Homo sapiens: one gene and its partners. The protein of the gene in region 1 purifies or fractionates together with the protein of each later gene. This does not show direct contact. Each region holds a gene or a part of one and is shown on either strand. Other genes may lie near its edges.

What was found.
Region 2: the proteins of YJU2 (region 1) and BCAS2 purify together in Homo sapiens (affinity purification with mass spectrometry; 3 studies listed by BioGRID and IntAct, with this or other methods). This does not show direct contact.
Region 3: the proteins of YJU2 (region 1) and PLRG1 purify together in Homo sapiens (affinity purification with mass spectrometry; 4 studies listed by BioGRID and IntAct, with this or other methods). This does not show direct contact.
Region 4: the proteins of YJU2 (region 1) and SERPINB4 purify together in Homo sapiens (affinity purification with mass spectrometry; 3 studies listed by BioGRID and IntAct, with this or other methods). This does not show direct contact.
Region 5: the proteins of YJU2 (region 1) and ISY1 purify together in Homo sapiens (affinity purification with mass spectrometry, with the first as the bait; 3 studies listed by BioGRID). This does not show direct contact.
Region 6: the proteins of YJU2 (region 1) and PRPF19 purify together in Homo sapiens (affinity purification with mass spectrometry; 4 studies listed by BioGRID and IntAct, with this or other methods). This does not show direct contact.
Region 7: the proteins of YJU2 (region 1) and SYF2 purify together in Homo sapiens (affinity purification with mass spectrometry; 3 studies listed by BioGRID and IntAct, with this or other methods). This does not show direct contact.

What each region holds. Positions count from the first base shown.
Region 1 is NC_000019.10:4,249,598-4,253,922, forward strand, and holds part of YJU2 (splicing factor YJU2), read left to right. Parts: intron 1-1,429; coding exon 1,430-1,574; intron 1,575-4,325.
Region 2 is NC_000001.11:114,574,291-114,578,615, reverse strand, and holds part of BCAS2 (pre-mRNA-splicing factor SPF27), read left to right. Parts: intron 1-1,857; coding exon 1,858-1,928; intron 1,929-2,864; coding exon 2,865-3,026; intron 3,027-4,325. UniProt on the Homo sapiens protein: Required for pre-mRNA splicing as component of the activated spliceosome. Component of the PRP19-CDC5L complex that forms an integral part of the spliceosome and is required for activating pre-mRNA splicing.
Region 3 is NC_000004.12:154,539,804-154,544,128, reverse strand, and holds part of PLRG1 (pleiotropic regulator 1), read left to right. Parts: intron 1-1,849; coding exon 1,850-1,942; intron 1,943-3,194; coding exon 3,195-3,344; intron 3,345-3,433; coding exon 3,434-3,535; intron 3,536-4,075; coding exon 4,076-4,178; intron 4,179-4,325. UniProt on the Homo sapiens protein: Involved in pre-mRNA splicing as component of the spliceosome. Component of the PRP19-CDC5L complex that forms an integral part of the spliceosome and is required for activating pre-mRNA splicing.
Region 4 is NC_000018.10:63,636,221-63,639,294, reverse strand, and holds the end of SERPINB4 (serpin B4), read left to right. Parts: coding exon 1-110; intron 111-1,171; coding exon 1,172-1,576; 3' UTR 1,577-2,036; downstream 2,037-3,074. UniProt on the Homo sapiens protein: May act as a protease inhibitor to modulate the host immune response against tumor cells.
Region 5 is NC_000003.12:129,150,661-129,154,985, forward strand, and holds part of ISY1 (pre-mRNA-splicing factor ISY1 homolog), read right to left. Parts: intron 1-4,325. UniProt on the Homo sapiens protein: Component of the spliceosome C complex required for the selective processing of microRNAs during embryonic stem cell differentiation. Required for the biogenesis of all miRNAs from the pri-miR-17-92 primary transcript except miR-92a.
Region 6 is NC_000011.10:60,893,149-60,897,242, reverse strand, and holds part of PRPF19 (pre-mRNA-processing factor 19), read left to right. Parts: intron 1-4,094. UniProt on the Homo sapiens protein: Ubiquitin-protein ligase which is a core component of several complexes mainly involved pre-mRNA splicing and DNA repair. Required for pre-mRNA splicing as component of the spliceosome.
Region 7 is NC_000001.11:25,222,061-25,226,385, forward strand, and holds the end of SYF2 (pre-mRNA-splicing factor SYF2), read right to left. Parts: intron 3,041-4,325; coding exon 2,942-3,040; intron 1,372-2,941; coding exon 1,206-1,371; 3' UTR 216-1,205; downstream 1-215. UniProt on the Homo sapiens protein: Involved in pre-mRNA splicing as component of the spliceosome.

The DNA of each region.
Region 1 (4,325 bases):
CCCCATAGATATATTTCAGCTCCTCCAACAGCCAAGCTCGTTCCTACCCCAGGGCCTTTGCACACACTGCTGCCCCTGCTTGGAACTCTCTCCCTCTACTTTCTTTCTTTCTTTTTTTTTTTTTGTTGAGACAGAGTCTTGCCGTGTTGCCCAGGCTGGAGTGCAGTGGCGTGATCTCAGCTCACTGCAACCTCCACCTCCTGGCTTCAAGCGATTCTCCTGCCTCAGCCTCCCAAGTAGCTGGGATTACAGGCGTGCACCACCACGCCCGGCTAATTTTTGTATTTTCAGTAGAGTTGGTGTTTTACCATGTTGGCCAAGCTGGTCTCGAACTCCTGACCTCAGGTGATCTGCCCTCCTTGGCCTCCCAAAGTGCTGGGATTGCAGGCGTGAGCTGCCGCACCTGGCCTTCTCCTTCTACTTACACATGGCAGGCTCCTCTTGTCTGCCATAGGTCATGGCTCCAATCTCACCCCTCCGGGAGGCCTCCATCATCCCCTCACGGTGCCCAGATCTTGCCTTTTGTAGCACTTCAGAATTACTGTATTTCACCAACTCTCAACCCCATACCTTTTCATGCTCTAGCATATCTGAAATCACGCACCTAACGAGGAAAGAGACATCTGGGTCAGTGAAATTCGGTTCATGCCCATGTGTTGTTGGCCTGTCTACTCCTCCCCCTCATTCATTCATTTATTCATTCAACACTCATTTATTGGGCACCTGCTGTGTGCCAGGGTCTGTGCCGAGCGCCAGGAACAAAGTCCCTGGCCTCATGGAGCCCACAGTCTAATGGGAAGTGGAGAATAGTGGTAGTCAGGCAGGTGCACGGGCCCCCGAAGTCAGGCAGGAGAGAGCCCCTGGGGCAGTGGCGCAGGAGGGAGGGCTATAGGTAGCTGGGGTACGGTGACATCAGGCAAAATACTGGTGGCGCTGAGGTCTGAGGATGAAGGGTGTCGCCGGCCATGAGACTGTAGGAGCAGAGGCCTTGAGCTGGGACTGAGCTGGGGGTGTTTGCAGGATCAGACAGGAGGCGGGCGTGCTGGGCTGGGGAGCAGAGCCCGGAGTAGGAGGGGAAGAGGGGGGTGGGGCAGCATTTTTCTGTGTGGCATCTTTCCTCCTGGAGGGTGGGGTGCCCCGTAAGCACAAAGATTGCTTCTGGGAGTGCATGACAGGCAGGCCTCACCTACTCAGGGGGCTTCCCAAGCAGGCGACCCTTGGACTGAGCCCCAGGAAGATATGAATGAGAACACGAAGTTCTCAGGTAGAGGAAATTTGGACACAGGGTGGGGCAGCCTGCCTCTTGAAGGAGGGAGCTCCCCGTTGCTGGAGGCAAGCAAGCAGTGATCTTGCAGGATGCCGCAGGGACAGCCTGCCAGTGGGAGCCAGCGTCCCAAGACAGCTCACATCCCTACATGCTGCCCCGCAGGTGTAAGACGTGCGGAGAATACATCTACAAGGGGAAGAAATTCAATGCTCGGAAGGAGACGGTGCAGAACGAGGTCTACCTGGGCCTGCCCATCTTCCGCTTTTACATCAAGTGCACGCGCTGCCTGGCAGAGATCACCTTCAAGGTAGGTGAGACGGCCGGCCAGGCCGGTCCCTCTCCCCCAGCACACCTCAGATCAGGGCGGGCCCTGGGGTTCCTTAACTCCAATCCTCTCCATCCAGGGAATCTCATTTCAGTTTATCCCCAAGAAACAGACAACAGTTTGGGGGAGATGTTCATGGCAGCATTCTAAATAAAGGCAAAAAGACAGAAGCAACCTAGATAGATAATAATAAGGGATGAGAAGAACAAATTAGCATGCAGGCTGGGCATGGCTCACACCTGTACTCCCAGCACTTTGGGCGGCCAAGGCGGGCAGATCACCTGAGGTCAGAAGTTCAAGACCACCCTAGCCAACATGGCGAAATGCCATGTCTACTAAAAATACAAAAATTACTGGGCATGGTGGCGGACTATAATCCCAGTTACTCGAGAGGCTAAGGCAGGAGAATCACTTGAAGCTGGGAGGCAGAGGTTGCAGTGAGCGAAGATTGCACCGCTATACTCCAGTCTGGGTGACAGAGCAAGACTCCAACTAAAAAAAAAAAAAAAAAAAGCCAGGCACAGTGGCTCATGCCTGTAATTCCAGCAGGTTGGGAGGCCAAGGCAGGAAAGAGAGCCCCTGAGGTCAGGAGTTTGAGACCAGCCTGGCCAACATGGTGAAACCCCGTCTCTACTAAAAATACAAAAGTGAGCCAGGCGTGGTGGCTCATGCCTGTAATCTCAGGTACTTGGGAGACCAAAGCAGGAGAATCGCTTGAACCCGAGAGGGAGAGGTTGCAGTGAGCCAACATTGCGCCATTGCACTCCAGCCTGAGCAACGAAATGAAACTCTGTCTCAAAAAGAAAAAAAAAAGTAGCGTGCAATGGAATATTACACAGCCAATAAAAATTGCAATTTGACTTTTATTTGTTACCTTGAGAATTTAAGGAAAGACTGAAGATAACTTAAAATTTTCTCTTCCTATGCTTAAGTACTCTTTGAATACTTTTTTGCCATAAGCTTTTTTTCTTTGATTAAAAAAACATTTTGGGCTGGGCGCAGTGGCTCACAGCTATAATCAGCACTTTGGGAGGCCAAGGCAAGTGGATCAGTTGAGGTCAGGAGTTCGAGACCAGCCTGGACAACATGATGAAACCCCAACTCTACTAAAAAAAAATACAAAAATAGGCCGGGCGCAGTGGCTCACGCCTCTAATCCCAGTACTTTGGGAGGCTGAGGCAGGCGGATCATGAGGTCAGGAGATCGAGACCATCCTGGCTAACACAGTGAAACCCCGTCTCTACTAAAAAAAAAGCAGAAAAAAATTAGCCAGGCGTGGTGGCGGGTGCCTGTAGTCCCAGCTACTCGGGAGGCTGAGACAAGAGAATGGCGTGAACCCAGGAGGCGGAGCTTGCAGTGAGCTGAGATCGCGCCACTGCACTCCAGCCTGGGCGACAGAGCGAGACTCCGTCTCAAAAATAAATAAATAAATTAATAATAATAATAATATTTTGGCTGGGTGCAGTGGCTCACGCCTGTAATCCCAACACTTTGAGAGGTCAAGGGAGAAGGATCGCTTAAATCCAGGAATTCAAGACCAGCTTGGGCAACATAGTGAGATCCCGTCAGTACAAAAAAATATAAAAATTAGCTGGGCATGATGGCATGCGCCTATAGTCCTAGCTACTTGGGAGGCTGAGGCAGGAGAATCAATTGAGTCTGGGAGGCCAAGGCTGCAGTGAGCCATGATTTCACTGCTATACTCCAGCCTGAGTGACAGAGTGAGACCCTGTCTGCAAAAAAACAAACAAAAACTTTTTTTGAAATACCTGAAGATTTACAGAAAAGTTCCAAAGATAGTACAGATAATTCTCACCTACCCCCTCACCAACTTCCCCGAATATTAGCATCTTATATAACCAGGGTACATCTGTCACAGTAAGATACTAAGGGTGGGGCCAGGCATGGTGGCTTACTCCCAGCGCTTTGAGAAGGCAAGGCAGGAGGATTGCTGGGGACCAGAAGTTCAAGACTAGCCTGGGCAACATAGTGAGACCCTGTCCGTGTCTACACACACACACACACACACACACACACACACACACACAAATTTTAATTAAAAAAAGAAACTAAAGGTGGAATGTTACCATTAACATTGTAGGCTGTGGCTGGGTGCAGTGGCTCATGCCTGTAATCCCGGCACTTTGGAGGCCAAAGCAGGAGGATCGGTTGAGTCCAAGAGTTAGAGACCAGCCTGGGCAACATGGCGAAACCCTGTCTCTACCAAAAAGAAATTTAAAAATTAGCCAGGTGTGATGGTGCATACCTGTAGTCCCAGCTACTCGGCAGGCTAAGGTGAGAGGATTGCTTGAACCCGGGAGGCTGAGGTTGCAGTGAGCCATGATCCTGCCGCTGCACTCCGGCCTGGGCAACAGCACGAGACCCTGTCCCCAAAAAAATAAAAAACATAGTGTTACTATTAGCATTTAGACCAAAGGTAGATTTCAGTTTTTCTGCTAATGTCACTTTTCTGTTCCAGTGTGTAATTTAAGATACCAGGGTGTATTTAGCCTCTCTATTCAATAAACAAAAACAGGGGCATGCTGTATACATATTTGTACATGTGATTTATAATCAAAGAAAAGGTGTTAATAAATACAAAGGGCAGAAATCACAACATGTGCAGAACCTTGGAGATTTTTTTTTTTTTTTGAGACAGGGTCTCACTTTGTAGCCAAGGCTGGAGTACAGTGGTGTGATCTCAGCCTCCCAGGTTCATGTGATTCTCATGCC
Region 2 (4,325 bases), on another chromosome or scaffold:
GTGGTTGAGGAAGGCCTCTCAAAGCTAAGATGAGACTACTCCATGAGCAGGGATTGCCCTTGCCGCTCCATGAACACTGGCTTAGTCTTTGGAGAGAGATGAGCTAAAATTCCAGATTTATCACTTACTGAGCATGTGAGTTAGTTAAGGGTTCCTCCTATGCTACATGGCTCAAGACTACTTATACTGCATTTTTATACTGCCTCGTGTTTAATTGGCTGTTTACTCCTTGTCTGTCACTGCAGAATTTTCTAGCTAGAATGCCCTGGTTTTTTTTTTTGCAGGAAACTAGGTAACTACATTTTCTTAAGATTGTGTGTAATTTAGCAGTAGCCCCTGCAAAATACTTTCTGCAGAAAGAAATGCTTAATACGAAATTTTTTGTTTTTTGTTTTTTGTTTTTTTGTTTTTTTGTTTTTTTGTTTTTGAGATGAAGTCTCACTCTGTTGCCAGGCTGGAGTGCAGTGGTGTGATCTCAGCTCACTGCAACCTCCACCTCCCAGGTTCAAGCAATTCTCCTGCCTCAGCCTCCGAGTATCTGGGATTACAGGCACGTGCCATCACGCCCAGCTAATTTTTGTATTTTTAGTAGAGATGAGGTTTCAACTTGTTGGCCAGGATGGTCTTGATCTCTTGACCTCGTGATCCACCCACCTCGGCCTCCCGAAGTGCTGGGATTACAGGCATGAGCCACCTCGCCCGGCCTAATAAAAACTTTTAAACATTCATGCAGGCTTCTGTAAGGCCTTTGATACTTATTTAGTCTAATTGTTAAGATAGTTGAAACCCTCAGAAAATTAAAATTACATGGAATAACCGAAGTATTACTACAAAGAAATATTTTAAGCAGTTCTTTATCCTCAGGGTAGGAAATGTGCAGAATGGAAATGGGTTAGGACGTTGGCCCTAAAGAGGAACAGCTATACTACATTTACTTGCGAACAGTAAAATTGCTAGAGAAGATAGTGAATATAAAGAAAAGACACTTTGGGAGGCTGAGGCAGGCCGATCACCTCAGGTCAGGAGTTCGAGACCAGCCTGGCCAACATGGTGAAACCCTGTCTCTACTAAAAATACAAAAATTAGCCAGGCATAGTGGCAGATGCCTGTCATCCCAGCTACTCGGGAGGCTGAGGCAAGAGAATCGCTTGAACCCGGGAGGCAGAGATGAGCCAAGATCGCGCCATTGCGCTCCAGCCTGGGGGACAAGAGCGAGACTTCGTCTCACAAAAAAAAAATAAATAAATAAATAAATTATTTCTTGGATTTCTGGAGGCTGGAAAGTGTACGGTTCACAGGCTGCATCTGGTGAGGGCCTTCTTGCTGGTGTGGACTTGGTGTACAGTCCTGAAGCAGCACAGGGCATTACATGGCAAGGTAGGGGCACACAAGAGAAAGACAAACTGGCTTTTATAACATACCCACTCTGGTGATAACTTATTAACCCATGAATGGATTGAGCCTTCATAACCCAATCACCTCTTAAAGACCCCACCTCTTAATACTATTACATTGGGGATTAAGTTTCTGTATGAATTTCAGAGGGGACAAACATTCAAACCATAGCACTGTCGAACTGATTCTGATATGCTTCTGGAATTAAGAACCACTGGTTTAGGATTAATCCTTTTCTCTGTGGGCTCCTTAATACATGCCACTTTTCCTGAATGTGAAGTGAGTGAGTGAGTGTGTGTGTGTGTGCTTCAGATTCTAGAGAGCATTTAACTCAGAGAAGAATTAGGGAAAGGTAAACAATTCATTATAATGGGTAGTGTAGCTTAAATCTGTTCTTTGGTGATTGTTAATTTTTAGTTGTCAACATGATCTTAGAAATCTTTTTTCTGATTTACACATCAGACTGACATAATGAGAAATGAATTTGAAAGACTGGCTGCTCGACAACCAATTGAATTGCTCAGTATGAAACGGTAAGAATATTAAAATGGAAATTAAAATTTAGTTTGTAGTAACTCAGTAATGAGCTGAGATTTGTGAAGAATGTATTTGCTGGCTAATATTGGCAGTGTTGGCCGGGTGTGGTGGCTCACACCTGTAATTCCAGCACTTTGGGAGGCCGAGGCTGGTGGATTGCTTGAATCCAGGAGTTTGAGACCAGCCTGGGCAACATGGCAAAACCCCATCTCTACCAAAAATAATTAATAATAATAATAATAATAATAATAAACGTACCTGGGTGTGGTGGCACGCACCCGTGGACCCAGCTACTTGGAAAGCTGAGGTAGGTGGATCGCTTGACACCCCCCAGGAGATGGAGGTTGCAGCAAGCCGAGATTGTGCCACTGCACTCCAGCGTTGGGGACAGAGGGAGACCCAGTCTTGAAAAAAAAACTATATATATATATATATAGAGAGAGAGAGAGAGAGAGAGAGAGGCAGTGTTGAAGGACTGACTGGGTAGTATGAAGAGAGAATAGAAGGAGTCATATCGCTTCTCATTTTTTTCTCTACCGGCGCATGGGTATGTTAGTGGATGGGTGGGTGTGAGTATTTTACAAAAATGGTAGCAAACTTTTTTGTCTACTGCTTTTTCCCCTTAATATATTACTGACATCTTAATATTATTAAATATTCTTCAGTAACATTTAATAGCTAATGTAACAATCTTTTATGTGAATGTAATGTTGCTTATTTAACCAGTTCACATTGAAGTGAACATAATGGTGCTAAATCATATTTGTAAATTGATTGTTAGCATATATCGGTTTCTTATTATTGCAAGGTTTACATCCTTAGTCTTCTGTAGTTTTTATACTATATGGAGACTCATGGGACATTCTACTGAGAAGAGATGTAAAGGCTTGGCAGTATAGATGGTTTTATTTTATTTTGTTGTTTAATTTCAGATATGAGCTTCCAGCCCCCTCCTCTGGTCAAAAAAATGACATTACTGCATGGCAAGAATGTGTAAACAATTCTATGGCCCAGTTAGAGCATCAAGCAGTTAGAATTGAGAATCTGGAACTAATGTCACAGCATGGATGTAATGCCTGGAAAGTATACAATGAGTAAGAACCTTTTTCTTCATCTTCTGTTTTTTTTGTTTTTTCTCTTTTCTTTCCATCTCACCCAAAGTTTTAGTACATTTTAAAAGTATGGGAGGTGCTGGGTGCAGTGGCTCATGCCAGTAATCCCAGCCCTTTGGGAGGCAGAGGTGGGTGGATTGCTTGAGGTCAGGAGTTCGAGACCAGCCTGGCCAACATGGTGAAACCCCATTTCTACAAAAAAAAAAAATACAAAAAATTAGCTGGGCATGGTAACGTGTGCCTGTAATCCCAGCTACTCTGGAGGCTGAGGCATGACAATTGCTTCAGCCTGGGAGGCAGAGGTTGTAGTGAGCCAAGATTTTGCCACTGCACTCCAGCCTAGGCGACAGAATGAGACTCTATCTCAAAAAAAAAAAAAAAAAAAGAAAAGAAAAAGAAAAGCCGGGCGCGGTGGTTTACACCTGTAATCCCAGCACTTCAGGAGGCCGAGGCGGGTGGATCACCTGAGGTCAGGAGTTTGAAACCAGCCTGGCCAACATGGTAAAACCGCATCTCTACTAAAAAAAAAAAAAAAGATTAGCCGGCCATGGTGGCGCTTCTGTAGTCACAGCTACTCAGGAGACTGGGGTAGGAGAATTGCTTGAACCTGGGAGGCAGAGGTTGCAATGAGCTGAGATTGTGCCACTGCACTCCAGCCACAGTGACAGAGCGAGACTCCATCTCAAAAAACAAACAAAAAAACCCCACAAAGTATGGGTAGGGGAAGTGTGATAAAAATAATATAGCTAGACTTTGTCTTGGGATTATGTTCTAGAACTGCAACCCATATGAAAGGCCACTATTTTGAAACCCACCTCAAAGTTCAAGAGTACTAACAGGACCTAAACCAAACTACGACATTTATTGTATAATATTGTAACAAAACTAGTTCTGAGGTCCCATTTGCAGAGCACCACTTGATAGAATGTTATCAAGCGTTGCTTAAACAGTTGATTCTCATTAGTCATGGGTTATGTTCTTTAAGTCCTATGAACACTGAATTAGCAAATACTGTACCATTTCTCCTAGGGGAAATATATACATATTCATGTGCACACATATACATATCTCTCAAATAGATTATAATCTTAAATCCTAAAATAAACTCATCCTGGTAGACTTCTTTATTTTATAAAAGAGAAAACAAAGTTGAGAAATGTAAAGTAACTTTCTTGAAACTGCCCCACTAACAGATCCCAGACTTGGAACTTGAACTTCATCCTCTGGTTATTTCTGTATGAGAGCTAAAACAAGAAGGCAAAGCACCTCCTTGTTCATCCT
Region 3 (4,325 bases), on another chromosome or scaffold:
AAAGAAATTTATTTGGGCCTACCAGTTACTCTTTCAACTACAATAAATGAAAATGATTCAGAGTGTATCATCTAAAAGAAAATGGACATGCATGCTAACTTCAGCAGCACATACACTAAAATTGGAATGGTACGGAGAAGATGAGCATGGCCCTTCCACAAGGATAACACAGATTCGTGAAGTGTTCCATACTGTTTATTTTGCATTGCTTGCCTATACCAAAATATCTCATGTACTCCATAAATACATTTCTACTGTGTACCCACAAAAATTAAAAACAGAAAATTTTAAAAAAGAAAATGTACATAGTAGGAAATGTACAGCTACACATAATTTAATATGTATCTTAAAAATTTCATTTTTCAAATGATTGTACAGTAAGAGCCTTTTTGTTTGACATACAGCTCTAATGAATTGTAATAGATGTATTGATTTGGGTAACCACTACCACAATTAGGATATAGATGTTACACCACCTCAAAAAACACCCTTGTGCTATTCGTTTGTAGTTACACTTTCCTTCACCTCTGACAATCACTGATCTGTTTTCTATCACTATAGTTGTCTTATTTTTTTTCAATAATTTCAGTTCTAATTTATTTTTAATTTTTATGGCTAACATAATAGATGTGCATATTTATGGGCTACATATCAAATTTGATACAAGCATACAGTGTGTAGGCCAGGCATGGTGGCTCATGCCTATAATCCCAGTGCTTTGGGAGGCCTAGGCAAGCGCATCTCTTGAGCCTAGGAGTTCAGTACCAGCCTGGGCAACACAACAAAACCCCGCCTCTACAAAAAAATACAAAAATTGGCTATGTGTAGTGGAGCACACCTGTAGTCCCAGCTACTCCAGAGGCTGAAGTGGGAGGATCACTTGGGCTCAGGAGGCGGAGGTTGCAGTGAGCCAAGATCACGCCACTGCACTCCAGCCTGGGCGACAGAGTGACACCCTATCTCAAAACAAAAAACAAAGAAAAACATACAGTGTGTAATGATCAAATCACGGTAATTGGGATATTATTTCTTTGTATTAGGAACATTCCAATTTTACTCTTCTAGTTATTTTGAAATATACAATAAATTACTCTTAACTGTAGTCACTCTATTGTGCTACCAAGCTAACTAGCCAAACTAGTGCTACCAAACTAGCTAACCAAACTAGTGCTACCAAACACTAAATCTTACTCCCTTTATCTATTTTTGTACCCGTGATCCACCTCTTCTTTATCTTCTGCCTCCCCACTATTCTTCCCAACCTCTGGTAGCCATCATTCAACTCTGAAGATCATTTATTTTTTAGCTCCCGTATATGAGAGAGAGCACGCAATATTTGTTTTTCTGTGCCTGGCTTATTTCACTTAACATAGTATCTTCCAGTTCCATCCATGTTGTTGCAAATAACAGAATTTCATTCTTTTTTATGGCTGAATAGTATTCCATTGTGTGTATGTACCACATTTTATTTATCCATTCACCTCATGATGGACACTTAGGTTGGTTTAGCTGTGTCTTTTTGACTATGTCATATAAATGGAATCATACAATATGTACTTTTTGAGACTGGCTTCCTTCACACAGCTTAATACTTTGTGAGTCATTGAAGTTGTTGCAAGTATTAATAATGTATTCCTTTTTATTACTGAGTAGTTTACATTATATAGATGAGCCACAATTTGTGTTAACTATTAACTCACTGAAGATAATTTCATATTATTGTAAAATGTAATAGTCATTATCTTTTATGATTTGAAGATGGGAGGGCAATTCAAACTCGGGCTGCAGTTAAACTTAAATACATTTTAACTTCTACGTTGGCCTGCCCATTCTACTTTGTTTTATACAGGTTATCAGTGGGCATCTTGGCTGGGTTCGATGTATTGCTGTGGAACCTGGAAATCAGTGGTTTGTTACTGGATCTGCTGACAGAACTATAAAGGTAATAATGAAGGAAGAAAAAATAAACATGACTTTGTGTTTGTCATGTAAGTTTAATCAGTTATTATTTCCTGTGGCAGGAATTGCTATTGCAGTTCCTCTGTTATTTTAGACCTGAATAAGGAGTAAAATTTATCATTTATACTAATAAGTGTTCTAAATAAATATCTGTTTGAAAAGTGCTATTTAAACCACTTTTTCTTTACCTACTGAATACCTACCACTAATTCCTTTATACTTACATTGTTCTCTCCAACTGGTTACAAAATTAAGAGCATGCTCATTCATAGAAAATGTGGAAAATATAGAGAATTAGGAAAGTACATAGACCTGTATATAATCCTACCATTGTTAGATATTTGGATAAGTTTCGTTTTAGTATTTATTTCTGTAAGTATCAATACCTTCACTTCTAAGCTCTTTTCCTGTGTGTGTATCTTTTAAAAAATCATTCTTAGTATGTAATTTTGTATCTTGCTTTTTTCACTTAACGTTGTATCAAAGGCATATTCCTGTGAAAAATTTACCATCTTTTAAAGTGGTTGCATAATATTATATCATTTAGATAGTCTGTAATCTGTTTTCCTATTACTGGACAGTAGAGTTTTTAGTCTGATTTTCACCATTACAAGTAATGCTGTTAAGTTTTGTATATAAGACTTTTTCTGTATTTTAAATTATTTTGTTATGGTAGAGTTCCATAAATGGAATAAATGGGTCAAATATTTTTGAAGCTGATACCCAAAGTACAAATTACTTTCCAAATGGGTGAATCGATACTTGCAGTGTATGAGAGGATCCTTTTCAGCACATTGGTTGTACATTCCTTTACAAATATCTAATATGGTAAGCAAAAATGGATACTTAATCTTTTTAAAAAACTTTGTATGAAATTTCTAATGAGTGTGAACTTTTTCATATCTGTATTTGCTGCTTTTAGGATTTCTTTAAGTTGTTGCCAGCCTCAGTTAATTTAATACCATACTTTTCTTACTGTTATTATCAAAGATATCATTTATATAACAAGAAGGTTAACCTTTTGTCATCTAATTGCAAATATTTTTCCAGTTTGAGCATGCCAGTTTTTTTCTTGCTTTTATTTGGAGGGGAGTCATTTTGCAAAATTTTTTATTTTTACGTATTTGTTATCTTTTTCCTTTTGTCTTTGAAAGCTCAGTTTTAATAATCAGGTTTCTAAAATTTTGTTTTGCAGTAACCAGTGAAAGAAAAAAATAAATATTCTTTGATTGCAGATCTGGGACTTGGCTAGTGGCAAATTAAAACTGTCATTGACTGGGCATATTAGTACTGTGCGGGGCGTGATAGTAAGCACAAGGAGCCCATATCTGTTCTCTTGTGGAGAAGACAAACAAGTGAAATGCTGGGATCTCGAATACAATAAGGTAAGTTTGGAGTTAAGGATTTAAAACATTGTGAACTACTATTTATCTTTCTAATTCTAGAAGTTTTAACTTTCCTGCTTTGTCTTTAGGTTATACGGCATTATCATGGACATTTAAGTGCAGTGTATGGTTTGGATTTGCACCCGACAATCGATGTGTTGGTAACCTGTAGTCGAGATTCAACTGCACGGGTAAATGGGATAGAGTTGTGTATTTATCTGTAAATATATTGCATCTTGTAGGGTGCACTTTCGGTTTCAGTGTCTTCAATTGATTGATAGAGAATTAAAGATAGCTGTCTTGAGTCATCAATATCCTAGTCCCTAAGTTTCTTAACTTGCATTTTTTTCCACCTTAGTCTTCAGTTGTATGGCCTCACCATGTTAGTGTTATTAGTGCCCTGCCCCTGAAATGTGATATTCTCACGTTCCATTCTGTAACAACTATTGTCCATTAGTTCTTTCATTCAGTAGTCTTAAAAAGTAGTCCCATCATACTCATTCTTAGATTTTCAGTACCCTGATCTTTTAGCTTTTTAGAATTCTTGCAAGTTGTCTCCTATTTATATTCGTCCTCCAGTTTGTAAATCATTATCTTTCACTTAAGCATTTTCTTTATTATATTCAGGCACTAGTTATGTAGTAAATTTTCAGCCTTGAATTGATCCAGTTATCTTCTTGAGATAATGAATACCTATTCTCTTTCCTAATATGTCTATTGTGTTTTTATAGATTTGGGATGTGAGAACTAAAGCCAGTGTACACACATTATCTGGACATACAAATGCAGTTGCTACAGTGAGATGTCAGGCTGCAGAACCACAAATTATTACAGGTATGATCGATACTTTTCAAGTTTACAGAATATTCATGTCAGAATCCATGTTATTATACATATACTTTTAATATTCATGATGACTCTTGCTCTGTATTGTGTTTACAGTGTTTCTGTGTCATATTTTAATCATGGACAATTGAAATG
Region 4 (3,074 bases), on another chromosome or scaffold:
ATTTTGCCTTGCTGGAGGATGTACAGGCCAAGGTCCTGGAAATACCATACAAAGGCAAAGATCTAAGCATGATTGTGCTGCTGCCAAATGAAATCGATGGTCTGCAGAAGGTAAGAACTTGCATCTACAACTCTTCCTTCTACTGCCGGACATTTTTCCAAAGATACCAAGTTTAAACAAGGTAAAAGCTTATGACCGAGTTGCCTCAAAATGATGAAAAATTCTAAATGAGGAATGATGACTCACCTTCATATTACAAATATTTGAGCATAGGGCCTGACACAAACTGAAAGCTTAGTTTTTGTTTGTTTGTTTGTTTTTATTATTATTATTATAATACTTTAAGCTTTAGGGTACATGTGCACAATGTGCAGGTTAGTTACATATGTATACATGTGCCATGCTGGTGTGCTGCACCCATTAACTCGTCATTTAGCGTTAGGTATATCTCCTAATGCTATCCCTCCCCCCTCCCCCCACCCCACAACAGTCCTCAGAGTGTGATGTTACCTTCCTGTGTCCAAGTGTTCTCATTGTTCAATTCCCATCTATGATTTAATTCCATCTATGGCTTAGTTAATGATTAATTTATTAGAGTTACATGCATTGGATATCAATTTGATGATATTATTATGCAGCAATTTAAACTTGACTGGGAGAAATATATACCAATGTGAGGAAAGTTTACAAATAGGCCGAGTAGAAAAGGGAATACAAATTTAGGAATTTAGGGAATTACAATTTAATAATTGCAATGTGTACTAAATAATGTATACAGAAAAATATGATGAGCCTATTAAAAATTGACACATGTAGTAGGCTGTTGGCACAAGAAATAGTGATACATACAGTTCATTGTGTACAAAATAATGTAATCATATTTTACATGTGTATCATACAGTTGTATACATACATATGTACACATATACATATACGTAAAAACATGATTCTGTTTTTACATACATGTATATACATATACACATATAACCCAATGTATTTATATATTCAGGACTCATATTTTACCTATTAGAATAATAATGTCTATTAAAGTGAACCTTCTGTATTTCACATTTATTGCCAAAATAACGAATCTCCACATAGTCAATTCATTGTTAAGGTGTATTAGAGATCGACAGTTAGTCATATCAGTTTCTTTTTTCCATTTGTATAGCTTGAAGAGAAACTCACTGCTGAGAAATTGATGGAATGGACAAGTTTGCAGAATATGAGAGAGACATGTGTCGATTTACACTTACCTCGGTTCAAAATGGAAGAGAGCTATGACCTCAAGGACACGTTGAGAACCATGGGAATGGTGAATATCTTCAATGGGGATGCAGACCTCTCAGGCATGACCTGGAGCCACGGTCTCTCAGTATCTAAAGTCCTACACAAGGCCTTTGTGGAGGTCACTGAGGAGGGAGTGGAAGCTGCAGCTGCCACCGCTGTAGTAGTAGTCGAATTATCATCTCCTTCAACTAATGAAGAGTTCTGTTGTAATCACCCTTTCCTATTCTTCATAAGGCAAAATAAGACCAACAGCATCCTCTTCTATGGCAGATTCTCATCCCCATAGATGCAATTAGTCTGTCACTCCATTTAGAAAATGTTCACCTAGAGGTGTTCTGGTAAACTGATTGCTGGCAACAACAGATTCTCTTGGCTCATATTTCTTTTCTATCTCATCTTGATGATGATAGTCATCATCAAGAATTTAATGATTAAAATAGCATGCCTTTCTCTCTTTCTCTTAATAAGCCCACATATAAATGTACTTTTCCTTCCAGAAAAATTTCCCTTGAGGAAAAATGTCCAAGATAAGATGAATCATTTAATACCGTGTCTTCTAAATTTGAAATATAATTCTGTTTCTGACCTGTTTTAAATGAACCAAACCAAATCATACTTTCTCTTCAAATTTAGCAACCTAGAAACACACATTTCTTTGAATTTAGGTGATACCTAAATCCTTCTTATGTTTCTAAATTTTGTGATTCTATAAAACACATCATCAATAAAATAATGACATAAAATCATTTTTGCTTTACCTGTTTTCTCTCTGGAAAGGGCAAGTGTCCAGTTACACATAGGAAAGATAATTTAGAGATATATTAATCATATATAAAGGAAAATTAAAAACAGAGTAGTTCATGATGAGCCTGGAGTAGAAGGCATATCCCAGAACAGGAGGAGCCTTGTAAACCACATAGGAACTTCCTATTTTATGCTAAAGGGATAAGAAACTCATTACAGGCTTTGATGGTTGTTTGTCAAAGAGGGGCATAAAATTATCATATCCACATCTAGAAAATACATCTCTGGCTACGCTGATATCAATGGATGCGAGGAAAGAACAGTGTGGTTACCATATATAAATTAGGAAATCATTAGAGTATTGGGAGTGGAAATGGAGAGAAAGAAAGAGCCTGGGGGAATTATTTAGGAAATAATAGTTACAGAAAGACATCTAAGTTGCTGACCTATCTGACTGGATGGATGGAAGAATATCTTGTTTCTGAGAGAAAAAAAGACTTTGGGTTTAAATTTGTACTTGATGAATTAAGGTACTTTTAATATTCAAATGGATTTGCCTGGCAGGCACTTGAAGATATTAGTCTAAATCTCAGAAACAGAATATGATCTGAAGCTCTAAATTTGTGATATTCAATATAAATACTTTAGAGTCATTGGGATAAATATGGTAGTTGTAGCTAAAAGCAAAAATAAGATACTAGGGAGAAAGGATAAAGTTAGAAGAAAGAAGAATCTAGAATTGACCTTGAAGTATATCAGCATGTGTAAAGATCAGGAATTGATCATTTTTATTTTCCAGAAAGTAGCTTTTCTTAGGGTTCCATATTTACTCCCATAGATTCTTCCCAGTCAGTACTGAATCCCACCTGGTTTCATAAAACATAAGTTTTAGAGAATTTGAACAAGGTTGAAGTTTTCTTCAGCAAGATTCAGCAGTCCAAGATGAAGGCAGAGGAAACAAATGTTTCACCACTTAACTATGAGACTTGGTCAAGTTGTCGAGGGAATTGACAGACTAGCCAGAGAGTGTATAACATCAA
Region 5 (4,325 bases), on another chromosome or scaffold:
TGCACTCCAGCCTGGACGCCAGAGCAAGACTCCATCTCAAAAAAATAAATAAATAAAATTAAAATTAAAAAGATTTATACCTAAGTTATTTCTTGTGTTTTGGTGCTTTTGTAAATAGCACTTTAAAAAAATGTTGTATTTCCAGCTGTTCAATGTTAGTATATAAAAATATAATTTTGAAGCTGAGCATGGTGGCTCACACCTGTAATCCCAGTACTTTGGGAGGCTGAAGCAGGCAGATATCACTTGAGCCCAGAAGTTCCAGACCAGCCTAGCCAACATGGTGAAACTCTGTCTCTACTAAAAATACAAAAATCAGCCAGGTGTGGTGGTGGATGCCTGTAGTCCCAGCTACTCGAGAGGCTGAGGCAGAATAGCTTGAACCTGGGAGGCAGAGGTTGCAGTGAGCCGAGACTGGGCCACTGCACTCCAGCGTGGGTGACAGAGGAAGACTCTGTCTCAAAAAAAAATATATATATATATAAATATATAAAATATATAAATATATAAAAATATATATAAATATATAAAAATATATATATGAATATATATGGGGTGTGTGTGTATATATATAATTCTGTATATTGAACTTCTTTTCTGTGATCTTGATAAATTCACTTATCCATTTTAGAAGTCTTTCTGTAGGTTCCTTGGGATTTTCTACATAGAAAATTATGTAGGATTTTAGGTGGGCATGGTGGCTCATGCCTGTAATCCCAGTACTTTGGGAGGCAGAGGCGGGTGGATCACCTGAGGTTGGGAGTTCGAGACCAGGCTGGCCAACATGGCGAAACTCTGTCTCTAGTAAAAATACAAAAATTGGCCGGGCATGGTGGCACATGCCTGTAGTCCCAGCTACTCAGGAGGCTGAGGCAGGAGAATCGCTTGAACCCAGGGGACAGAGGTTGCAGTGAGCCGAGACTGCACCACTGTACTTCAGCCTGGGTGACAGAGCGAGACTCCATCTCAAAAAAAAGAAAATTATATAGGATTTTCTATGTTACAATAAAGACAGTTTTACTTATTATTTTCTAATCTTTATGCCTTTTATTTCCTTTTTTTACTTTACCGCACTGGCTAGGATTTCCAGCATCACGCTGAATATAGTGGTGAGAGTGGATGTCTTTGCCTCGTTCCTGATCTTAAGAGGAAAGCATTCAATCCTTCACCATTAAATAGTTTATTGGCTATGGGTTTCTTATAAGTACTTTATCAGGGCCGGGTGTGGTGGCTCATGCCTGTAATCCCAGCTCTTAGGGAGGCCAAGGTGGGTGGATCACCTGAGGTTGGGAATTCGAGACCAGCCTTGCCAACATGGTAAAACCCTGTCTCTACTGAAAATACAAAAATTAGCTAGGCGTGGTGGCTGGCACCTGTAATCCCAGCTACTCGGGAGGCTGAGGCAGGAGAATCACTTGAACCTGAGAGGCGGAGGTTGCATTGAGCTGAAATTGCACCACTGCACTCCAGCATGGGTGACAAGAGCAAAACTCCGTCTCAGAAAAAAAAAAGAAGTGCTTTATCAGGGTAAAAAGTTCCCTTTTATTCCCAGTTTGCTGAGTTCTTATCATGAATAAACGTCTAATTTTGTCAAATACTTTTTCTGCATCTACTTAGATCATACAGTTTTTCTTCTTTGGAATGACACAGTGAATTAACTTATTTTTGAATGCTGAATCTACTATGTTTTTCCAGAATAAATCCTCCTTAGTTGTGATGTATTATCCTTTTTATACATTGCTAGGTTTTGTTTTTTTTTTTGAGACGGAGTCTCGCTCTGTCGCCCAGGCTGGAGTGCAGTGGTGCAATCTCGGCTCACTGCAAGCTCCGCCTCCCGGGTTCCAGCGATTCGCCTGCCTCAGCCTCCCAGGAAGCTGGGACTACAGGCACCTGCCACCACGCCCGGCTAATTTTTTTGTATTTTTAGTAGAGACGGGGTTTCACCGTGTGTTAGCCAGGATGGTTTCGATCTCCTGATCTCACGATCCACCCACCTTGGCCTCCCAAAGTGCTGGAATTACAGGCGTGAGCCACCGCGCCCGGCCATACATTGCTAGGTTTGATATGCTAATGTTTCATTAAAGATTTTTGTCTATATTCATAGGAAATATTGTCAGTAGTTATTTCTCATAATATCTTTTTCTGATTTTAGCATCAGGGTAATGCTGATACTAAAATTCACAAAATGAGTTACAAAGTGTTCCCTCTTCTTCCATTTTCTTGAGGAAACTATGTGGAGTTGGTATTATTTCTTCCTTAAATATTTAGTAGAACTGACCAGTGAAGCCATCTGGGTCTGGAATTTTCTTTTAGAAAGGTATTTAGAAATGAATTCAATTTCTTTCCATCTTTTTTTTTTTTTTTTTTGAGATGGACTGTCGCTCTGTCACCCAGGCTGGAGTGCAGTGGCCCAATCTTGGCTCACTGCAACCTCTGCCTCCTGGGTTAAAGTGATTCTCCTGCCTCAGCCTCCCAAGTAGCTAGGATTACACGCATGCGTCACCATGCCTGGCTAATTTTTGTATTTTTCATAGAGACAGGGTTTCACCATGTTGGCCAGCCTGGTCTTGAACTCCTAACCTCAGGTGATCCACCCACCTCCACTTCCCAAAGTGCTGCAGTTACAGGCGTGAGCCACGGTGCACAGCCCCAATTTCTTTAACAGATATAGGACTACTCAGGTTTACCATTTCTTTTTGAACTGTGTCTCTAAACAGTAGAATTATTGACACTGTAGTTTATTTAGGATAATTATTTGTAGGAGGCTTAGCACATCCCTGGCCTCTACCCACTATGTGCCAGTAGCACCCTTCCAGTTGTAACAATCAAAAATTTCTTCAGGGCTGGGCGCAGTGGCTCAAGCCTGTAATCCCAGCACTACGGGAGGGTGAGGTGGGCAGGTCATGAGGTCAGGAGATCGAGACCATCCTGGCTAACATGGTGAAACCCCGTCTCTACTAAAAATACAAAAAAAAATTAGCTGGGCATGGTGGTGGGCGCCTGTAGGCCCAGCTACTCAGGAGGCTGAGGCAGGAGATTCGCTTGAACCCGGGAGGCAGAGGCTGCGGTGAGCCAAGATCATGCCACTGCACTCCAGTGTGGGCAACAGAGCAAGACTCTGTCTCAAAACAAAACAAAACAAAACAAAATGAACTATTTCTCGGCCAGGCACTGTGGCTTACACCTGTAATCCTAGCACTTTGGAAGGCCGAGGAGGGTGGATCCCCTGAGGTCAGGAATTGAAGACCAGCCTGTTCAACATGGTGAAACCCTGTCTCTACTAAAAAATTACAAAAATTTGGCTGGGCGCCATGGCTCACGCCTGTAATCCCAGCACTTTGGGAGGCCGAGGCGGGCGGATCACGAGGTCAGGAGATCGAGACCATCCTGGCTAACACGGTGAAACCCCATCTCTACTAAAAATACAAAAGATCAGCCAGGCGAGGGGGTGGGCGCCTGTAGTCCCAGCTACGCGGGAGGCTGAGGCAGGAGAATGGCGTGAACCCCGGGGGGCGGAGCCTGCAGTGAGCTGAGATGGCGCCACTGCACTCCAGCCTGGGTGACAGAGCGAGACTCTGTCTCAAAAAAAAAAAAAAAAAAAAAAATTAGCCAGGTATGATGGAGGGTGCCTGTAATCCCAGCTACTCGGGAGGCTGAGGCAGGAGAAATTGCTTGAACCCAGGGAGGTGAACCCAGGGAGAAATTGCTTGAACCCAGTGCAGTGAGCCGAGAACTCGCCACTGCACTCTAGCCTGGGTGACAGAGCAAGACTCCATCTCAAAAAAAAAAAAAAAAAAAAAAAAGGACCACTTCTCTTAAGTGAGCTTTGGCAGTTTGTGTCTTGTAAGGAATTGACCTATTTCATCTAAGTTGTCAAATTTATGGGCATAACATTGTCTGTAATATTTCCTTATTATCCTTTTAATGTATATAGATTCTATAGTAATATTCCCAATTTGGTTCCTAATATTCTTAATTTGTGTATATTTTTTCTTGGTCAGTCTGACTAGAAGTTTATCAATTTTATTGATCTTTTTTTTTTTTTTGAGACAGAGTCTCGCTCTGTCTCCCAGGCTGGAGTGCAGTGGCGCGATCTCAGCTCACTGCAAGCTCCACCTCTTGGGTTCATGCCATTCTCCTGCCTCAGCCTCCCAAGTAGCTGGGATTACAGGCGCCTGCCACCACATCCAGCTAATTTTTTGTATTTTTAGTAAAGACGGGGTTTCACCGTGTTAGCCAGGATGGTCTCGATCTCCTGACCTCGTCATCCGCCCGCCTCGGCCTCCCAAAGTGCTGGGATTACAGGCGTGAGCCACCACGCCCAG
Region 6 (4,094 bases), on another chromosome or scaffold:
AATGGTAAGTATTTGTGTATCTAAACAAGTGTAAACATAGAAAAGGTTCAGTAAAAATAAGGTATAAGAGATTTTTTTAAAATGGTACACTGGTATAGTGCTTGCCATGAAAGGAGCTTGCAGGACTGGAAGTTGCTTTCAGTGAGTGAGTTGTGAGTGAATGTGAAGGCCTAGGACATTACTGTACGCTGCTGTAGACTTTATAAACACAGTACACTTAGGTTTTACTAAATTCATAAAAAACTTTTTCTTCAGTAATAAGCCTTAGCTGACTTTTACTTTATAAACTTAAAAAAATGGATTCTTTTGTAATAACATTTAACTTAAAACTAAAACACATTGTACAGCTGTACAAAAATATTGTCTCTCTTTACATCCTTGTTCTATAAGCTTTTTTCTAATTTTTTTATTTTTATTTTTTACTTTTTAAACTTTTCTTGTTAAAAACTAAGACACAAGCACACATTACCCTAGGCCTACACAGGATCAGGATCACCAACTGTATTAGTCCGTTCTCACACTGCTATGAAGAACTGCCTGGGTAATTGATAAGGGAAAGAGGTTTAATTGACTCACAGTGACTCGGGAGGCCTCAGGAAACTTACAGTCATAGCAGCAGGGAAAGCAAACATGTCTTTCTTTACATGGCAACAGGAGAGACAAATGCTGAGCAAAGGGGCTAAAGCCCCTCATAAAACCATCAGATCTCGTGAGAACTCACTATCATGAGAACAGCATGGGGGTAACCACCCCCATGATTCAGTTACTTCCCACTGGCTCCCTCCCACAACACGTGGGGATTATGGGCACTACAATTCAAGATGAGATTTGGGTGGCGGCACAAAGCCTAACCATAGCACCAACATCACTGTCTTCTACCTCCACATCTTTTCCCACCGGAAGGTCTTCGGGGGCACCAACATGCATAAACCTGTCATCTCCTATGATGATAATGCCTTCTTCTCGGATACCTCCTGAAAGGGCCTGCTTGGTGCTGTTTTACAGTTAACTTTTTTTTATAAGTGGGAAGAGTATATTTAATACCAAAAAAAGTATAGTATAGGCATACCTTGTCTTATTGCACTTAGCTTTATTGTATTTTATGGATACTTTGCTTTTTATAAATTGAAGGTTTTTGGCAACCTTGCCCCAAGCAAGTCTGTCAGTACCATTTTTCCAACAACATGTGTTCACTTTGTGTCTGTGTGTCAAATTTTGGTAATTCTTACAGTATTTCAAACTTCTTCATGATTTATTGTGTCCGTTAGTGATCTTTGATGTTGCTATTGTAATTGTTGGGCGGGGGGGCACCATGAAATGTGCCCATAAAAGTTACTGAATTTATTTGATAAATGAAATGCTGTGTGTGTTCTGACCACTCCACCCACCAGCCGTTCCCCATCTCTCTCCCTCTCAGACTTCCCTATTTCCTTAGACACAACAATATTGAAACTAGGCCAGTTAATAACCGTATTATGGCCTCTCGGTGTCCAAGTGAAAGAAAGTGTCCCATGTCTGTTACTTAAAATCCAAAGCTAGAAATGATTGAGCTTAGTGAAGAAGGCATGTGAAAAGCCAAATAGGCCAAAAGCTAGGCCTCAACACCAAATATTAGTCAAGTTATGAAAGCAAAGGAAAATTCTTGAAGGAAATTAAAAGTGCTACTCCAGTGAACGCACAAATGATAAGAAAGCAGAACATCCTTATTGCTGATATGGAGAAAGTTTCAGTGGTCTGGATAGAATATCAAACCAGCCACAACATTCTTTTAAGCCAAACCATAATCCAGACCAAGATCCTAACTCTTGAATTCTGTGAAGGCTGAGACAGGTGAGGAAGCTACAAAAGAAAAGTTTGAAGCTAGCAGAGGTTGGTTCATGAGGTTTAAGGAAAGAAGCCATCTCCATAACAGAAAAGTACAAGGTGAAGCAGCAGATGCTGTTGTAGAAGCTGCAGCAAGTTATCCGGAAGACCTAGCTAAGATCATTGACGGTGGGTACACTCAACAACAGATTTTCAATGTAGACGGAATAGCCTTCTATTGGAAGAAAGTGACATCTGGAACTTGCACAGCTAGAGAGAAGTCAATGCCTGGTTTCCAAGATGCAAAGATCAGAGTGATTCCCTTGTTAGGGACTAATGCAGCTGGTGATTTTACATTGAAGCCAAAGCTCATTTAGCATTCTGAAAATTGTAGGGCCCTTAAGAAGGTGGGGCTAAATCTACTCTGCCTGTGCTCTGTAAATAGAACAACAAAGTCTGGATGACAACACATCTGTTTACAGCATGGTTTACTGAATATTTTTTAAGCCCCCCATTAAGAGGTACTGTTCAGAAAAATAGATTCCTTTCAAAATATTACAGTGCACCTCATTACCCTAAAGCTCAGATGGAGATGTTTCATGCCTGCAACATCCAATCTTCGGCTTATGGATCAAGGAGTAATTTTGACTTTCAAGTCTTATTACTTAAGAAATACATTTTATAAAGCTATAGCTGCCCTGGATAGTGGTTCCTTTGATGGATCTGGACAAAGTAAATTGAAAACCTGGAAAGGATTCACCATTCTACACGCCCTTAAGAACATTTGTGATTCATGGGAGGAGGTTAAACTATGAACATAAAGAGGAGTTTGGAAGAAATTGATTCCAACCCTTCAGCCCTCATGGATGACTTTGAGGGATTGAGGACTTCCATGGAGGGAGTAACTGCAGATGTGGAGGAAATGGTAAGAGAATTAGAATCCAAAGGGGAGTCTAAAGATGGGACTGAATTGCTGCAATCTCATGTTAAAACTTTAATGGATGAGGAGCTCTTAGGGATGACCAAAGAAAGTGGTTTCTTGATGGAATCTTCTACTGGTGAAGATGCCGTGAACATTGTTGAAATGATAATGAAGGATTTAGAATATTACATAAACTTAATTGATAAAGCAGGTGCAGAATTTGAGAGGATTGATTCCAGTTCTGAAAGTTCTACTGTGGGTAAAATGCTATCAAACAGCATCCATCACAGAGAAATCTTTTGTCAAAGGAAGAATCAAATGATGTGGCAAACTTCTTTGTTGTCTTATTTTAAGAAATTGTCACAGCCACTTCAGCCTTCAGCAAACACCACCCTTGTCAGTTAGCAGCCATCGACATCAAGGCAAGACCCTGCTGGTGGGTCTTGGAAAAAGATGACAACTCACTGAAGTGTCTGATGGTTGTTAGCATGTTTTAGCAATAAAGTATTTTTGATTAAGGTATGTACATTGTTTACTAGACATAATGTTATTACACACTTAATAGACTACAGTATAGTGTAAACATAACATTTTTTTTTGAGATGGAGTCTTGCTCTGTCGCCTAGGCTGGAGTGCAGTGGCACGATCTTGGCTCAATGCAACCTCCACCTCCCAGGTTCTAGCACAGGTGGGCACCATCACACCCGGCTAATTTTTGTATTTTTAGTAGAGACGGGGTTTCCCCATGTTGGCCAGGCTGGTCTTGAATTCCTGAACTCAAGCGATCCACCTGCCTCGGCCTCCCAAAGTGCTGGGATTACAGGCATGAACCACCATGCCTGGCCAACATAACTTTTATATGTAGTGAGAAACCAAAAAAATTTGTGTGCCTTGCCTTATTGCAATATTTGCTTTATTGGTAGCCTGGAGCTGAACCAGCGATGTCCCTGAGATATGTCTGTACATAAACCAGTAACGTACTGTACCTAATTATGTTATACTTTTTTTTTTTTTGAGATTGAGTCTTGCTCTGTCACCCAGGCTGGAGTGCAATGGCATGGTCTTGGCTCACTGCAACCTCCGCCTCCTGGGTTCAAGTGATTCTCCTGCCTCAGCCTCCCGAGTAGCTGGGACTTCAGGCGTGTGCCACCACATCTGGCTAATTTTTTTTTTTTTGTACTTGTATTTGTAGTAGAGATGAGGTTTCACTATGTTGGCCAGGCTGATCTCAAACTCCTGACCTCGTGATCTGCCCACCTCGGCCTCCCAAAGTGCTGGGATTACAGGCGTGAGCCACCGCGCCTAGCTATATTATACTTTTATACAACTGGCAGTGTAGTAGATTTGTTTATACCTGTATCCCCACAAA
Region 7 (4,325 bases), on another chromosome or scaffold:
TACAGGCACCCACCACCATGCCCAGCTAATTTTTGTATTTTTAGTAGAGATGGGACTTCACCATGTTGATCAGACTGGTCTCAAACTCCTGATCTTAAGTGATCCACCTGACTCAGCCTCGCAAAGTGCTGGGATTACAGGCGTTGAGCCACCACACCCGGCCAATATTTGAAATTTTCTGAGCTTCAGATTTCTTTGAATTTAAAATATCCCAATTAGATATTTAGCATTTAATTCAACATAGAGAAAAAATAACAACCTTTCCCTCTGGAGTTTTATAAAAATAAATCTATTGCAGTGATAATAGTATTGTGGTCATTTAAGTCTTTATCTTTCAGAGATACATACTAAAATAATTATAGATGAAATTATATATCTAGTATATGCGTCAAAATAAGAGTCATGAAGAAAGTAAATGGAAATAAAGATGAAGCAGGACTGGCCATGAGTTAATGATTGTTGAACAGGGTACTGGGTATATGGGACTCACCAGGGGTATTGGGTGTATGGAATTTCCCATAATAAAATATTCTTTCAGTGTTTGTAGAATGGAAGCATGTATGTATATAAACAAATGTATATATACAAATGTTTGTTTTAAATGATAGACTAAAAATGTTAGAAATTCTAATCCCAAGCATTTATTGCTTTTTAAAAAGGGAACTGTACATGATCAGATCATGGAAGGATAGCTCCACTCCTCCCCGACCTTGGTCACAGGCCGCCATGAGGAGGGACTGCTCCAGTCCTCCGGTGGCCACTGCCATCTTCCTCATCACTGTCCTTAGCTTTGGAGTACACAACTCCAAGTGGCCCGAGTCTAGACTCTATCAAATTCCACACTGATAGCAACAATGACTGCATCTGATGTGTGCTGCTGGCAATCTTAAGCCCAAAATGCTTCAAAGATTAAACAGCCATATACATTTAAAATACATAGAAAAATAATATAATTAGAATGTATACAAAGTAGATTACAAAACAACTTCACTACAAGAAATACATCTTATATCCAAGCACAAAAATGTGGAAATATACATGAAAGGATATACGTTTAAGAAACCACATTTTTATTTCTAAATGCTGAGTGAGAAGGCATGGACTACTAAATTCTGGATTACTGATAAAATTTCAAAAAGAACTTGATTTTGCTAGCAGAAATTTTTACCCCATTCTCAAGCTTCTATAAACAGTTCTTGAAGGGATTAGACAGCTGTTCCTCTTTCCAAATTCTGTTTAATTTCAGCTGTGTATTTCCCATAGAATCTTTCAGCTTTCTTGTTGAATTTGGCATTCCTTTCATTAATGTAGTCGATATCTGCATCATCATTATAAGGACGTCTCCGGCTATATTTGTCTCGTTTTTCAATCCTGGGGAAAGAAGAAAATTTACAAAATTCAAAATTGCCTTCTCTTTTGATCTTAATAAAACACAACCAAACAGGAATATAATCACGTTTAGAATAGCACATGTTGTGAGGGCTAGAGGAAGCCAGGAGAGTTTTCATCAAGTTAAAGTTGAAACTGAATTAATGGCACAACTCAGAATATGAACTGTGAAATCCAGTAAATACAAATTCATCTTCAGAATGCTAGAGCGATGACTCATTGTTGGGAACTTGACTGTACTGAAGAAGATAACTATTGGCTGGGCATGGCGGCTGTAATCCCATGCCTGTAATCCCACTACTTTTGGAGGACAAGGCCTCCCAAAAGGTCCTCTGGGAGGATCACTTGAGCCCAGGAGTTCCAGACCAGGGCCTGGACAACATAGGAAGACTCCATCACTATAAAAAAAATTTTTTTGAATACATTTTCTAAAAAAGAAGATAACTATAACAATATTAAATAGGCCAGGCGCAGTGGCTCATGCCTGTAACCCCAGCACTTTGGGAGGCCAAGGCAGGTAGATCACCTGAGGCCAGGAGTTTGAGACCAGCCTGGTCAACATGACGAAACCCCGTCTCTACTAAAAATACAAAAATTAGCCAGGAGTGGTGGTACACGCCTGTGGTCCCATTTACTCAGGAGGCTGAGGCAAGAGAATCGCTTGAAACTGGCAGGTGGAGGTTGTGGTGAGCCAAGATCGTGACACTGCGCTCCAGCCTGGGCAATAGAGTGAGACTCCGTCTCAAAAAAAAAAAATTATATTAAATAATAACCACAGCTAATACTGAGCACATAATATGTGCCAGACACTTTTTTTTTTTCCTGAGACAGGGTCTCGCTCTGTCGCCCAAGCTGGAGTGCAGTGATGCAATCACAGTTCACTGCACCCTCCACTTCTTGGACTCAAGTGATCCTCCTGACTGAGTCTCCCAAGTAGCTAGGACTACAGGCACGTACCACCATGCCCAGCTAATTCCTGTATATTTTTTGTAGAGAAAGGGTTTTGCCATGTTGCCCAGGCTGTTCTCAAAGTCCTGGGCTCAAGCAATCCTTCTGCCTCAGCCTCCCAAAGTGCTAGGATTATAGGCAGGAGCCACCACGCCCAGCCCAGACACTATTCTTAATACTTTTCATGTATTAACTCCTAAAATATATTTTCATTCTGCTCTACCTAATAGTCGCCTCTATCAGTATTAAGAAACACAAACCTAAGCGAGGAACATTTACTACAACATTCTTGCTTCTTCAAATCAAACAGGGGAGTGGTTAAAGTAAAATCCTTAAAGAAGGATCATTTTTTTTAGACCTTTCCCCTTCAATATTAACAATTCAGTTTCATCAACATTCTTCATCTCCATTCCAAATCAGATATATTCAACCCACACTTGCTATCCATCCCCAAGCCACTATAGACAGGTCAAAAATTAGCAAGTATAACTGTACAATTTCTATCTTTTGAATTCATTCTAAGCACGTCAGATATAGGTGCATATTCTAAGTGCATTTTGTCATGAAGTATTTACAACGTCAAGCTGCTCTACTGAATACTTACTGTTTTTCCAGATCTATGACCATCCTGTCAATTTCCTCTGTGGAAGGCACATGTGTTCCATGAAGAAGACTATTGGATGTTGGGAAAAACTCTTCTCCACTGAAAAGGCAGCAAAATGAACTTACAGTAACACTATAAATGCTCCATTTTCAAATTTCAAACTAAAGTACCATACATGATAAGAAAGTATACACATACATTTACTGTGAGATCCTACTTTAATTTTTTTTTAAAAAAACATACAGGCTGGGTGCAGTGGCTCACATCTGTAATCCCAGCACTTTGGGAGGCCAAGGCAGGCGGATCGTTTGAGGTCAGGAGTTCAAGACCAGCCTGGCCAACATGGCAAAACCCAGTAGAGACTGAAAATATAAAAATTAGCCGGGCGTGGTGACACACACCTGTAGTCCCAGCTACTTGGGAGGCTGAGGCAGGAGAAGCACTTGAACCCGGGAGGTGGAGGCTGCAGCGAGCCAAGATCGCCCCACTGTGCTCCAGCTTGGGCGACAAAGTAAGACTCCGTCTCAAAAAAAAAAATTTTTTTTAATTAAAAGAATTAAAATAGGACCATGTGGAGGCCAGGCGCAGTGGCTCACGCCTGTAATCCCAGCACTTTGGGAGGCTGAGGTGGGCGGATCACAAGGTCAGGAGTTTGAGACCAGCCTGGCCAACATGGTGATACCCCATCTCTACTAAAAATACAAAAATTAGCTGGGCGTGGTGGCAGATGCCTGTAATCCCAGCTACTTGGGAGGCTGAGGCAGGAGAATTGCTTGAACCCGGGAGGCGGAGGTTGCAGTGAGCCGAGATCACGCCACTGCACTCTAGCCCAGGCGACAGTGCAAGACTCTGTCTCAAAAAAAAAAAAATAGGGCCATGTGCAGTGGCTCACACCAATAATCCCAGCACTTTGGGAGGCCAAGGTGGGCACATCACCTGAGGTCAGGAGTTCAAGACCAGCCTGGCCAACATGGTGAAACCCCATCTCTACTAAAAATACAAAAAAATTAGCCAGGCGTGGTGGCGGGCACCTGTAGTCCCAGCTACTTGGCAGAAGAATCACTTGAACCCAGGAGGCGGAGGCTGCAGTGAGTCAAGATTGCACCACTGCACTCCAGCCTGGGCGACAGAGCGAGATTCTATCTCAAAAAAAAAATAAAAATAAAAATAAAAAATAAAAAATTACAGAATTGAAAGGAACCTAAGACATCATCTACGCCAACACCTTCACTGTACAGATCAAAGAGCCAACAGGCAGAGAGGCTCCAGGACTTATCAGAGGTCACAAAGTGCTAGGAACAGAGCTGGGATTAGAGCTCCATCCTGAGGTTATTTCCTTTTCCACTAAAACAAGCTGCCAAACTACAGCAGCCCACCACCTGTT